2 linked regions of the Homo sapiens genome follow. The protein of the gene in region 1 interacts with the protein of each later gene in a pairwise test. Each region holds a gene or a part of one and is shown on either strand. Other genes may lie near its edges.

The links. The genes of interacting proteins can lie anywhere in the genome.
Region 2: the proteins of CMIP (region 1) and ZC4H2 interact in binary tests that used the Homo sapiens proteins (3 or more experiments, as listed by UniProt).

What each region holds. Positions count from the first base shown.
Region 1 is NC_000016.10:81,699,790-81,706,812, forward strand, and holds part of CMIP (C-Maf-inducing protein), read left to right. Parts: coding exon 1-12; intron 13-1,870; coding exon 1,871-2,011; intron 2,012-2,832; coding exon 2,833-2,880; intron 2,881-4,149; coding exon 4,150-4,296; intron 4,297-5,709; coding exon 5,710-5,815; intron 5,816-7,023. UniProt on the Homo sapiens protein: Plays a role in T-cell signaling pathway. Isoform 2 may play a role in T-helper 2 (Th2) signaling pathway and seems to represent the first proximal signaling protein that links T-cell receptor-mediated signal to the activation of c-Maf Th2 specific factor.
Region 2 is NC_000023.11:64,973,448-64,981,130, reverse strand, and holds the start of ZC4H2 (zinc finger C4H2 domain-containing protein), read left to right. Parts: upstream 1-4,680; 5' UTR 4,681-4,753; coding exon 4,754-4,806; intron 4,807-7,683. UniProt on the Homo sapiens protein: Plays a role in interneurons differentiation. Involved in neuronal development and in neuromuscular junction formation.

The sequences.
Region 1 (7,023 bases):
ACCATGGTGGAGGTAAGGAGCTGGTCGGGGTCCCTGGTGGGGTGGCTGGCTCCCCGTCCCTTGTCCGTGCCGATAGAGCATCTGCTGGGAGCCAGGAGCTGCTGCAGGCACGGGGGGCAGTGGGTGAGGCGTGCAGTCCCAGCCGTCCTGAGCTTAGTGGGAGCCTCGAGCCTTCATCATGCAGTGTATTTGTTTCTGTTGTGATCCAGCTGATCCATTGATCAGTGGGGTTGGGGACGCTTCTGTTCTGCTCATTTATTGCTGTGTAACAAACCACCTCTAAGTGAGGGCTTTAAAACAAGATCGTTCATTTCTTTTGCACATGGGCATTGGGGTACCTGGGCGCAGCTACGCACTTCTCACCTGGGGCCTCATCAGTCAGATGGGGCCAGGTTGGGTTAGCCCCAAGGCTTCTCGCATTGGCCTAAGAGGCCTCAGACAATGAGGGCTTTGGCGGCTGGGGCTCCCCAGCCGCACCCTTCACCTCGTGGCCTCCAGGTAGCCTGTCCACCTGCCAAGAACACACACACCCAGCCCCACAGGTCACCCCTCACCTGCTGCTGCTCCTCTCTCTCCCTGCACGCTCCAAAGTCCCCAGAAGCCTGAGACTCCCAGAGCAACTGTCCCAAAGTCCCCAGAAGCCTGAGACTCCCAGAGCAACTGTCCCAAGGGAACCAAGGCAGAAGCCATGTCACTTTTTAACTTAGCCTCCCTTGGAAGGCAGGCGGCATCACTTCTGCCACATCCTCCTGCTGGCAGTGAGTCACCGCGGCCGGCCCTCAGTCAAAGCCGTGGGAGCTAGACTTCACCCCTCAGTGGGAAGAGCATCGAAGAGTTGGCAGGCGCAGCAAAGCCATGGGAGCTCCCGTGGAAATGAGAGTTCGGGCAGATGTGAGCCCTGGGGAAGAGGCAGCGGGAAGGTGGGAGCTGAGCAGGCTGTGGGGACATCCCGGGCGGAGGCTTGCTGGAGGCCAGGGTGGCTGGAACACAGGGAGCCAAGGGGCAAGAGGTCTGGGATGTGGCTGGATGGGCATGAAGAGCCTTCTGGGTACCTAGAGGTGCTGGGAAGGAGTTTGGATTTAATCTTGGCTGTCCTGTGACAGGGATTCGGAGGCCATGGGGGAGGGCTGAGCAGGGAGACAGGAGACAGGCAAGAGGCGCTGTGAGAAGCGTGGGCTGAGTGACCTGCTCCTTGGTGAGTGAGAAGTTCTAGAACTGAGCACCATGGCATGCACCTGTAGTTCCAGCAACTTGGGATGCTGAGGTAGGAGGATCACTTGAGCCCAGGAGGTTGAAACTAGCCTGGGCAACATAGCAAGACCTCATCTCAAAAAAAAAAAAAATCGTCATTGGAAAGGGAATGTCAGAGGCAGGGCTGTCAGGCGTGTTGACCCCCAGGCCGAAGAGCCACATGTGCAGTCATGAGGCCCTCTAGGAAGCTGTGTGGTAGATGGGCCCAGGGCTCTGAGCCATTCCGTGAGTTTGAGCACCTACTTCATGACAGCCACTGGGGAAGGAACTGGGGAGAGAGAGGTGTCTTAACTTCTGGCCTTTCCACCAGTGCTCAGGGGCCTGCAAACATCCCCCGGGGGCCTGCCCCATGTCCAGACACCGCACGGTAAGCAGATGCCTGGGAGACTCCCATGTCCATTGACATTTGAACCTGGAGAACCTCAGTGCGTGGTCACTGGTGCTACCATTGTACAAGCAGGAAGTTGGGCAGGTGATTTGCCCAGGCTTACACAGCCGGGGCTGCAGAAAGGGGATAGTGGGGTTGCTGGTTTTCAAAACAAGGCCCTTGGGGTGCACAGAGTGTGCTGAGCTAGGGTGGCAGGCCGGGTCCGTAATGCACCCCTGCGGTTCTGGACAGATCCTGTGCTTGATGCTGGAATACAACATCATCGACAACAACGACACCCAACTGCAGATCATCTCAACCCTGGAGAGCACAGACGTGGGGAAGCGCATGTACGAGCAGCTGTGTGACCGGCAGCGGGAGCTGAAGGAGCTGGTGAGTCCCCGGCTGCTCCGGACCACTCCCCTGCCCAGCAGGCCAGGGGGGGCCAGGGCGGGATGCGGGGCAGCTAGTACTTGGACCTGAGTGGACCTCAATCTCGTTGAATTCTCCTCCAAACCCCAGAAATTGGTATTACCACCTGCCACTTTTCAGGTAATCAAAGAGAAGCAAAGCAATCCCCAGAGTCACACAGCTCATTGGGGCCTGGCCAGGACATTGCCCACCCTCCCTCCTCCATGTCCCTTAGACCCTTCCATTTCAGTACATGGGGGACCCAACTTCCAAATGCCAGCACCCACACCTCTTTGCTGAAGGACTTTGTATGTCCACATGCATATACTCACACATGTGTACACAGAAGGACGGAAGGGGCAGGAAATTCATGCCTTCTGATCTCCTGGAGCAGCCCTCAACCAGTCCCTTCTGGGGAGAGTGTGTAGAAATACCCCAGCTCCCTCACCCCTTCAGTGAGATATGTTTGAGACATGGCTTCTCCACCATTTCTTAGAGTCCCCCGGTGGGATTTGGTGCCAGTACCCACCCAGTGATAGCTGGATTGATAACACCCCTTCCATTATAGGTAGCCACAGTGTCACTTCCCCACTCTCCCACTGGTGTTTCTTGGGATCACCCTCCAGTAAACCACCTGTGCTCAAACCTCATCTCCGGGTTTGCCCCTGAGACCAAGACCACCGTGTTGCCTTGTACCACCAAGAAAATAACGATGGCTCCATGAGTGTTGTTAACAGAGGTGGAAGTCTAGAATGGAAACTTGGGGAAAAGAATGGTTGTAACCAGCCTGGTTTCTGTTGCAGCAAAGGAAAGGCGGGCCCACCAGGCTAACACTGCCCTCCAAGTCCACAGTGAGTTGGTTTGGTTCTCTTTGGGGCTGGATGGAGAAGGTGGGTTGGTCCTCTCTGTTGGGGAACGGCAGGTGGTGTCTGCTGCTGAGATGGGAGGTGATGGAGGGCGGGGCACAAGGACCCCCTAGTACTTAACACGCCAGCTCTTCCAGGAGGTAGCTGGGTTACAGGAAGAGAAATGAAAACCAAAAAGGAAGTTAAAATATGATACAGATTGTTGGTGATAATAGTGTTGATATCTAGTTATTAATAGTACTTGGAATAATAGCAGATATACCTTGAGCATTTGTGTGTCAGATGCTCTTCTATTAGTTTGTTTTATCCTCACAGCAACCCTTGGAAGCTTGTGTATCTTACCATTCGCATTTCACAAGGTCTTTAAGGGTCTTATTTCCTTCTATTCTGATGCCCCCATTATATTTGACACATGGCTTCTACTTCCTGGACCAAAAGGGCTGCTCAGGCTCCAGACCTCTTGTCTCCATTCCAGCCAGCAGGAAGGAGAACGTGCCCCTTCCTCTTAAGAAACTTCCTGGAAGTTCTACTTGACATGTCTACTTACATCCCATTTTCCAGATTTAGTGTGTGGGGCCACACACTAAATCAGCCTTCATTCCGGGCAGCCACAGGGCCGCTGACACTCAAGGATGGAGGGGAGTGTGGAGGTTGTCTTAGGAACCTCCCAGTCCGGTGCTCAGGCATGCGCTGGTGTCTTCAGGCATTAGAGTTGAGTGTGGCCTCAGTGTTGGCATGAGCTGCTGCCCAGGAGTGAGGCAGCCAGTCACACACCCTGATGCACAGACACAGACACACAGAGACACACCAACACACACACACACAAATATACACAGACGTGCACAGACACACACATGTACAGACACATGCATACACAAACGTGCACACAGACACACACAGATATACACACATACAGGCACACACACACAGACACACACACACACAGACGCCTGTGGGAGGATCGTGGCCTTGGAACACCCCGCTGGTGCCTCAGGGTGTGAGTCACAGCACTGGAGGCTTTCTCCTCCGCCTGGCAGCTGTCGTCCATGGGATGCGTGGCAGCCCCTCCCTCTCTGGCCACCCCCTTGGCCCATCCCACCGAGCTGTGCCCCCATCTCAGCTCCTGGGATTTACCGCCCCCCAGGAACAGCTCTCTGTAGGGCGAGGGGAGAGGAGGAGGATAGGGGATAGGAGGGCTCAGGGTCTCGGGAACTCCCAGCAGCACCCTCAGGCCTCTCCCCCGTCTGCCCGCAGGACGCTGACTTGGCTCGTTTGCTGAGCTCCGGCTCCTTCGGAAACCTGGAGAACCTCAGTTTGGCCTTCACCAATGTAACCAGTGCCTGCGCCGAGCACCTCATCAAACTGCCTTCGCTCAAGCAGCTGAACCTGTGGTCCACTCAGGTACGTCCTCCCGCCCTGCTGCAGTCCCCCACACCCTCCTCCTTCACCTCTGCACTCTCCTCCCTATTCCCCCGTACCATCTTCCTTTCCCCTCAGCCTCCTCCCTGCCCCCTCCCCCTCCTTCCTGCCCCCTCCCCCTCCTCCCTGCCCCCCTTACTCTCCTCCCTGCCCCTTCACCCTCCTCCCTGCTCCCCTCACCCTCCTCCCTGCCCCCTCACCCTCCTCCCTGTCCCCCTTACTCTCCTCCCTGCCCCCTCACCCTCCTCCCTGCCCCCCTTACTCTCCTCCCTGCCCCTTCACCCTCCTCCCTGCTCCCCTCACCCTCTTCCCTGCCCCCTCCCCCTCCTCCCTGCCCCCTCCCCCTCCCCTACCCACTTACCCTCCTCCCTGCCCCCTCACCCTCCTCCCTGCCCCCTCACCCTCCTCTCTTTCCCCTCACCCTCCTCCCTGCCCACTCACCCTCCTCCCTGCCCCCTCACCCCCCCACCCACTCACCCTCCTCCCTGCCCCCTCACCCTCCTCCCTGTCCCCCTTACTCTCCTCCCTGTCCCCTCACCCTCCTCCCTAACTCGTTCACCCTCCTCCCTACCCCTTCATCCTCCTCCCTGCCCCCGTCACCCTCCTCCCTGCCCCCTCACCCTCCTCCCTGCCCCTCACCCGCTTCCCTGCCTACACCCCAGGCATTGCTTACCACACGACCCTTCCCTCAAGCTCAGCACCCACTCCCTGAGGCTAGAGGAGGTTGAGGACCTCATGAAGCCCTGCAGCCCATTTCCCATTTGGAAATAATGTGCCCAGTTCCGAGTCCTGAGGTTCTGAGAGGTAGAGCTGAGACGTGAGCCAGGCTTCGCTGGCCTGCGGGGGGCTGCGCAGGAGGCTTCTGGGTCTTTTTGTTATAGTAACACCAGTGGCTGCTGAGTCCCAGCTCAGTGTGAACTGCACTGCTCAGTACTCTGCACAGGGCAGATGAAGGGGCCTTCACTGCACACCTGTGAAGTGCAGGTTCTACCCTCACCCTAATTTTCCAGAGGAGAAACTGGGGACAGTCCCTGCAGCCTGCCCCCGGCCCAGCCCTGTCCTTCCACTGTCCACCCAGCAGGAGAAAGCCACCTAGGCAGCATCTCGAAGCTAGGGAGAGACAAGTTCAAAGCCCTCCTTCATGGAGGCAAAACTGACTCCAAGGGGGCCCTGGCCTGGCTCCACTCCCAACAGCAGAAGCTGGATTCTAACCCGGTTCAGAGAGGCGTGGGATTGTTTAGGGGACGTGAACGCAGCCCAGACCCCAGGGCTTGGTGGGCCATGGGCCTCAGAGCCAGGCTCTGTCCCCATCCCTTTCCTCCACCTCTGCCCCAGCCTCAGAGTCACTTCCCCAGGAGTGGCCGGGAGAGGGCTGAGAGTTTCTGTGCTCTACAGTTTGGAGACGCTGGCCTTCGGCTCCTGTCGGAACACCTCACCATGCTCCAGGTGCTGAACCTGTGCGAGACCCCGGTCACAGACGCTGGCCTGCTGGCCCTGAGCTGTGAGTGCCTCCGGGGCAGCTGGGGGGTGAGGGGCCGCTTGATTCATTCCTTCCTTGCTTCAGCCAAACTGGCCAAGCACTGACTTTGCACCATGCACAGATAGAGAAATTCGTTCATTCACAAACGTGTTCACTGCACACCTGCTGTGGACCAGGCACCATTCCATGTGCCAGGAACAACACAGGGAAAAATATCCCTAACCTCAGAGAGCTTATATTCTAGAGGCAATAGAAAAAATGAGTAAGGCCAGCCCATAGCCTCTTGACACTCACAGTCCACTGAGGGGTCGAGTTCAAGGACGGGGCTGTAGTACATTGCCACTGTGGTCCCCTGACCAGTGGTGGCAGCGTCTTCTGGGGGCTGGTCAGAAATGTACATTCCCAAGCCCACTCCAGACCTCCTGACTCAGACACCGTACGGTAAGCAGATGCCTGGGAGGCTCCCGTGCCCGTTGACATTTGAGAAGCCCTGTCATAATAGAAGGAGGCACAGAATTCTCAAGGAACCTAGAAAGGCCAGTTCCTGTGTGCCAAACCCCAGGTGACTGAACTAGCCTCAGGGATATTGAGCCCGGGATTCTGTATTTGACCAGCTTTCCCTTTTCCAGGCCCACTGCTTTAGACGGGAAGACCCGTGGCTCAGTGGGAAGAGTCAGAAAAGGCTTCCCGGGGAGGTGCTGTTGAGTCTGGGTGTGAAGACAGATTTGTGGGAGTTGGCCAAGGGGGAGGCACCCTGAGCAGGGGCCATGACTCCTACCGGGCCGCTGGCAAATGCTGGGTGGCTTGGGAGGAGGTGGGAGCAGGTGACTGGGTCAGTGGAGGCAGAGCGGCAGCGCTCGGCCAGTTTGGCTGCAAATGCAGATGCGCTGCTTCCACTGGAGTCCCCCGGGGGGGCGCGGTCCTCATCAACAGCACAGATTCCTGGTCCCTGCTGCGGCCCTGCTCAGCGTCTCTGGGAGTGGGTGGAGGGGTCTGCCCCCCGTGCGACTCCAACACAAACCAGAGGTTGAGGCTTGCTTTCAAGAAGCAGCACCGAGTCAATGACGACGGGGGGACCATCCGGGGTTCCCTTAGTGGGGAGGCCTCGGGCCTGATCTGGGGTGTGGCAGGCAAGCTCTGGGGACATCAGGTCCAGGCAGTGGGGGCACACGACAGAGGGACCAGAAGGGAGGGAGGCTCAGAGGGTGGGAAGAAAACGAAGGCTCTGT
Region 2 (7,683 bases), on another chromosome or scaffold:
TACCTACTTTTTTTTTTCATAGGCTAAGCATTTTCTGACTCAGGACCATTGCACCGGCTATTCGTTCTGCCTGGAGCACTCTTCCTCCAGATCATTGTATGCCCAACTCCTTATGTCTCCACTACAATGTCATCTCTGAACAGGAGCCTTCCCTGACCATCCTAACTAAAACATTCCCCCTCCTGCCATCATTCTGTCCTATTATCCTCAATTAGTGTCTTATGGGCTTATCTCCCCCAAATATTATTATGTTTATTTTTTTTTCTTTTCTGTCATTATTGTCTGGCTCCTCCTACTAGAATGTAAACTTCCTAAGAACTGGGATCTTGGGTAACTAATAGAACATAGTAGGTGAGAGCATGGCTTCTGGAGGCAGACTCTCTAAATTTGAATCTCAGTTCTGCCACTTACTAGCTGTGTTACTCTGGGCAAGTTACTTAACTTCTCTGTGCCTCAACTTCCTCTTCTGTAAAATAAGGATGATAATAATATATACTTCCTGTGAAGTTTTTGCAAGGATTAAACTAACTTAATACATGCAAAGCACTATATATCCCTGGAACCTAGGAGAGTGCCTGGCATGTAGTAAGTGTTCAGTAAATATTTGTTGGCTGTTTGCATGAATTAATCCTCGATACCTCCTGCTGTTTCCCTCCCTTCCTCTCTCATCCTGCCTAGTTTTGTTCAGGAAGCTTTTCCCTGACTCCTTGCCCACTTCTCAGGACTAAATTGGTTCTCCCCTTATGTGTGTGTGTCTTGCTCACAGAACCTAGACTTATTTCAAGCCCTGATTGCTAGGTATAACTATATATGTATGCATGATCTTTGTAATAGCTGGTCTCTCTCACTAAATGGTAAGCTTGGTAAGGGCAGGGCCCATGTCTGTCGTATCTGCTATGAAATCTTCACTGAAACCTCGATGGTTCCTGACATATCATAGGTGCACAATAAACATTTTTGGGCTGAAAACTTTTGGCTCACTTTTCTCTTAGAAATGCTGATTAAGAAATATAATGAGAAATTTAATAAGTAATTTGCACTACTTTTTGAAAGGCAATTTGGAACCAAGACTGTTGTTGCATCTCTGCCTCCTTTTAGTTTAGTTCACTGTTGAAGTACAAAGAAATATCTGTGAATTCAATATTCTGGCCTCCATTTTTAAAGTCTTGATCTATTCCCTGAAAGTATAATCGAGACTGACTGGCTTCCCTTTTGCTAATTTCTTGCATTTTAATGGTATTAACCCCAACATACCCTGCCTTATTGCCTTAGCAATAAGAATAATGTTGGCCCTGATAAAACTAAGATTTTTTTTTATTTCTAACCCCTCAAATCAATCAGTTCTTCTAATAAAATCATGCATTAGAACTCACTGCTAGCCCATATCTTAAATATTGTTTCAGCCATTGCAAACTTCTGATCAATTGAGAGCTACTGAACACTTACTATGGAAAAGCCACCACCTTGGCTTGCAGATACTGTTTTAAGTGCTGCTTCAGAAGAAGGGGCAGAAGGCTATAGTTTCCTTCTCTTCCCCACTGTTTCTCTACAACATTTTCCTTCCTCTCACTGCTAGCCTGGATTCTTAAAATTCAGCAAGGAACAGGTGAGACATCTGTTCTCAAGGAGGTCAAGGAGCCAAAAGCAAACCAGCAGAAGCTAAGAGGCACATTACTCTTTCTGTATTTGGACATTTTAATTGTTACAAATAGCACAAACCTTCTTCCAAGCTCCAGGTTTTCCCATGGCCTCTTCTCTTAGATTAACTGCTATCTCCCTTAAATGTCCATAGTTGGAAGCATGGGACATGCTTGGCCCTCTGCAGACACCCTATATTGGAGTGCACCTTCTGGCTGAAAAGTAACAGAGGCATTCAGGCCCCATGGTAGCAGCAGCAGCTTGATACAGGCCGCATGGGGCCATAGGAAGAGCACAGGCCCTTGAGTCAGGAGTCTTGGTTCTGTTTCAGCCAAGTAGGGTGATGTCAGACAAGTCCTTTGCCTCTCTTGGTCTCAGTTTCCTCATCTGTAAACTAGGATTTCGGTGAGGCTTGAAAGACAAGATAGTTCCCAAATTATTACCAAATCAGACTCTAAACCCATTAACATATTTAATTGAAACAGATACATACCCACATCCAGACTTTTACCAGATGTGTGAACATAGTCAGTGGTAAGGATTCTTAAGGTGAAGGGGACAATGGAAAAAGAGAGAGACATTAAATTTAAAATCTCAAAGGCTGTTCATAAATTGCTTCCCACACATCCCATACAAACCCTCCGCTTCTCCCCAAGCCAGCATTAATGCATTATAAACCACTTTATGTTTGACATAGATACATACACTCGGGACCCCATTGTAGTTTTGGTTGCTATATATATATATTTTTTTTTTCCAGACACACTCTCTTCATTAATCTGCAAGTAACTTGGTCCAAACTGGGCACAGGCTCTAGCTTTATAACTTATTGTGTGGACATGGCAAAACAACTTTCCCTATCTGAGTCAGTTTTCTTCCTTCTAAAAGGGGATGAATCTACTTGCCCCCTTCATAGTGGTTGTGAGGATGAAATGATAGATTGTACATATCAGACTCAGCACAGTAGCCAGTACATGTCAGGCACTTAACGCAGGCTTGTTGCTTACCTCCTCCCCTTACGGGACAGAGCTGGGGCCAGTTCTTGGCTCTGGATCCACAGGCTTTGTGACTAACCAACTCAATGTTCTTTAAATACCAACTAGTGGCTGTACAAGATAGCAACCTTCAAGACAATAGGAAAATGTAGACACCAGGGAGAATTTTATGGTTAAGAAAGTTATTACATCTTGGATCCAAAGAAGAGAAGGGCTTTAATTTCTTCCCTGGAGAATGCTTAAAATCACTGTGGACATCCAGAATGACATGAGATTCATGTTCCACAAACTTCTCAAGCTCCTACAAAATACCAAGCCCTGTATTCAGCATGATCATGGGAATGATCTCATAGAGGCCTCCCAACAAGCCTCTGAGGTGGGCTCACTAGGTACATTTTTCAGATGAGGAAACTGAAGCTCAATAAAAGAAAGCACAAACTCAGAGAGAGTTCTGACTCACTTTTAGTTGGGAGTGAGTCACCATCTTCCTTTTGCCCAACGTCCAGCTCTCTAGGCCTGTTTGTGCACGCTGAGTAACTGCCTCTTACCTGGTCTCATGTCCTCTAATCATTCTCCACTTTGCTTCCAGAGTCCCTCTCTAAAATATTCCTCCATCCTTATCACTACCGTGCTTTGAAACATAAAATAATTAAACATTACTTGGTGCAGAATAAGCACTTAAAAAATGTTTATTAGGGCCAGGCGCAGTGGCTCATGCCTGTAATCCCAGCACTTTTGGGAGGCTGAGGCGGGTGGATTGCTTGAGCTCAGGAGTTCAAGACCAGTCTGGCCAACATGATGAAACTCCATCTCTACTAAGAAATACAAAAATTAGCCGGGCATGGTGGGTGGGCGCCTGTAATCCCAGTTACTCGGGAGGCTGAGGCAGTAGAATTGCTTGAACCCAGGAGAAGGAGGTTGCAGTGGGCCGAGATCTGTGCCATTACACGCCAGCTTGGGCGACAGAGTGAGACTGTCTCATAAATAAATAAATTAATTAATTTAAAAGTTTATTAGATAAATGTCTGCCTACAGGATTAAGTCCAAACCCTTTAGTCTGACATTTAACGTATTTCATAGTCTGGTTCCTACCTGCCTTTTCTAAATACTACATCTCCCATTTCTTTTTTCCACCTCTACACCTCATATAAGAAACCTATATTTCAGGCACTCTGAACCACTCATCCTTTCCTTTCTCTCTCTATTGTATCCTCACCTGGAGAGCCCATTCTCCTCTATGGTCTGACAAATTCTTAGTCACTCTTGAGACCTATTTACATCTTCTCTGCACAGGTTACACCTTATCTATTCCTGTATTTTGACACCACACTGTACTGTAATTAATAGGTAAATTTTCAGCCTCTTCTGTTCCTCAAAGGCAAGGATTTGCTTTTATTTATCTGCCTTGCCCGGTGACTCCTACAGTACTTCTTCCATTGACTGGCAAAGTCCGAGCTTAAGTAATTGTTTGTTGAATGGGTAAGTAGCTGGAAGTACTTACCCACTCTCCTTTCCCCCAGCTTTTGCAGCATCTCCCTCCTCCCATCCTCCTCTTCCCCACCCCCGCCCCACCCTAAATTGAATGCCAAAGTTACTGGTCCCCAGGCAGCAGCTAGCACATTCAACGTCTCCAAAGCTACTTTCCCTGCAGGGTTTCTTTCCATCCCCAAGGCGTAATTAGCGACTACCGCTAATCTTTTGCGGGTGGGTAGGTGCGAGGGCCCCCGAAGGGAGCGAATGGGTATGTCTCTCATCTCTCCAATTGCCTTCAGGAATATTTTTTTCTCCATTTTCCCACACACGGGCCAGACGAATATCCCCATTCCTTTGCACTCTTCACAACCTTTGACATAATTATCTATAACAAATTGATTTAAAGTGCGGCTGCAGGAAGGGAAACAGGCATGTCTCGCTTGGCCTTCTGGGAGTTGTAGTCCTACAGGCCCCCGGGCTTCCTGGCTGGCCCTGAAGCTCCGGACTACAGCTCCCAGGCCTCTCCAAGCCCCTACCGCACAGGCTCATAGCCCCAAGCCCGGAGGAGGTGGCTACATTGTGTCTATTGTATCCCTTGGCTGGTGTATTTGTACATCTCTCGGGACGTGAAATTGACAGTGAAAAGTATGGCAGATGAGCAAGAAATCATGTGCAAATTGGAAAGCATTAAAGAGATCAGGTAAGTGGCACGTTGTCCCCCTCCCCGCCCCTCTCCAACCCTTCGTTGCGGGAGAGGGCTAATTATCTATTGTTGGGCTGTTTGTCTAGAGGAGCTGGAAAGGGGCCCATTCACCACAGACTTGCCGGAGAGGTGAGGATGGGAGGGGCGCTGAGGAGAGTTGAGAGAGAGAGAGACCTCTTGCCAGATGTGGCTGAGAAAGCAAAGATGAAGAAACACGGGTTTGGTACCAAGACAGTTTTATTCTTCTCGAGGTGGAGGTCAGGGCTCTGCATTCATGGACACGTTTTTTAAAAGTACTTGTGTGCCCCAAGGTGTCTTTGGCTCCTTGCTCTTTAGGAGTCGGGATTTTTTTCCAGTCTCTTGTTCAACTTCAGAACCTGGAGTTCGGGAAAGGCTTTTGAGAGCCAAGTCTAGCGCATCGGGGCTGGTGGCTGCTGCCAGGGGCTGCCAACTGGGGGTTGCAGAGGAATCTCAGCGGGCGGAGCTGGGAGAATGGCGCGCGCTCGTTTTCCTTTCACTCACTCGCCACTTTCTTCCTTCCTATCCCGCGCTTGGGAGGGGGATGGGAGCAATGGGGACTGGGGACGCGGTCGCTGCGCTGATGGTGGGATCGCGACAGCTGCTCTGAGGAGCTGGAGGTGACAGGCGGGCTGGCAAAGTGGGAGTTGCCGAAGTGGAGTCCGCTACACGGTTGCTCCTGGAGCAGCTTTTGGCAAAGCGATGATATTGTCCTTGCTCAGAACACAATAGCGCCAGGCGGGCTGTGTGGGCTGGCACAAGGTCTTTCTTCACCTCGCCTTCTCAGCGTGAGCCCCTGCTTTGGCTTTTGCTCTCACTCTGAGAGTGGCCTGGGTCAAGCTCTCTCCCTGGAGTGTTTTCTGAGAACCCAAGGTGGAAGATGTCAAGTGTGTTTCTTTAAGAAATAAGACTTTGATCATGAGATTTAACCCTTAGAGTGCTGGATGAGACCTACACATGGTGATTAGTGGTGGTAGGTAAAGCACCTTGGTTTCTTCTTCTTCTTGAGGGGTTGCATCTCTCTTTCTACAGGAGAGGTAAAGGAAGGGAACTATCATTTATTGAGTCCCTTCCCGCCCCTGTGTGCCAGGCCCTTTGACCTACTTTTGCTCATTCAGCAAGAGTCCTGTGAGCTTCCTACTCCTCCTTTACAGCTGGGGAAATAGAGGCCCAGAGAATTTGAGTGATTTTCCCACAGCCACGCAGCTTGAAATTGCCACATTTTGTTGGTCTGCCTGCAAAGGTATTCCTTTTCCCACTATGTCCCAGGTAAAGTCTGGAAAGGAGAAGGGAATATGTTGCAATTTTTTTTTTTTTTTTTTTTTTTTTTGGCAAAAGCATCAGAAGCTAGCTAGAAAGTGAGACACCTTAGTACAGTAGAATGCCAGCTGTCATAACGATGCAGCTAGTCAGAAGCTTAGGCTTGCAAATGGAGAGCCTAGACTTCCACTCTCACCAAGCTTCAAAGGAACCACCACCCCATGCCCAGAGAAGGACCAGTTGTGAGCAAGGACTTTAATCCCCAGTGAAAATAGACCTCTCCCAGTGAAGACCATATGGAGAACCATGACTTCTACCCTTACCAGTGGTAACTAGGAGTTTCTACCTCAACCAGCTAGGATGGAATCAGCATAGGCCCAGAGAGAAGGCCAAACTTTCACCTCTAAACAGCAGTAACAAACAGCCCTTCTCCAAACTGGATGTCAAGAGACAGTGGAGAAACTGGACTTCTACTGTCCCTCTTCCATCCAAGAGAGTGGTAGAGGACTGCTAAAACAAAAGATTTAAATAAGATCCAGAGTATCCAACTTTTAATCAAAAATCACTTTCCATACTAAGATATCCACTTGAATGAGAAGAGAAAATAAACAGATGCCAATACTGAGATAACACCCATGTTAGAATTATCTGATAAGGATCTTAAAGCACCTGTCCTAAAAACATTTCAGTGAGCAGTTACAATACACTTGAAACAAATGATAATGTAGAAAATCTCAGAAAATGAATAGAAAGTCTCAACAAAGAAATATAAAACATAAAGAAGAACAAAGTGACATTTTTAGAACTGAAAAATACAGTAACATAAAAACCCCAAAAAACTCAATGGATAGGTTCAACAGTAAGGTGGAGAAGAGAGAGGGAAAAAATAGCTTACAAATATAAAACAATAGAAATCACTGTGGCACTATAACAAAAGCTTTAACATTTATGCCAACAAATTCCCAGGAGAAAGAGGGCAGGATTGGAAAAGTATTGGGAAAAATAATGACTAAAATCTTCCCAAATTGTGCAAAAGACATAAACATTTAGATTCAAGAAGAGGAGCAAACACCAACATAATTGACACAAAGAAACACACTCCAAAACACATTGTAATCAACCTTCTGAAAATGAAAGAAAAAGGAAACTTCTTCAAAACAGCTGAAGAGAAACAAAAGCTACAAAGGAAAAAAAAAATTAGAATGACAGATTTATCATCAGAAACTGACGATGCCCTAGCATTTTGTAAGTGCTGAAGGAAAAGAAGTGACAACCCATAAATCTATGTCCAATAATAATATCCTTCAGTATTGAATGGGTAATCAAGACATTCTCCAATGAAGAAATACTAAGGAATTTAGATATACCCTAAAAAAAGATGATAGTAAGCTCTGAAAACAGAAAAGAAACAATAAACAGTAAGCAAAAGCATGGTTAATGCAGTAGACTTTCTCTTTCCTCTTGAAATTTCTTGTATTTTGATAATTGAAGCTAAATTTATACTGTTATCTAGTGTGGTCTCAGCATATGTAGAGGAAATATTTAACACATTTATATTGTAAACTGGGGAATGTAAAGGGGATTGTAAATGTAAAG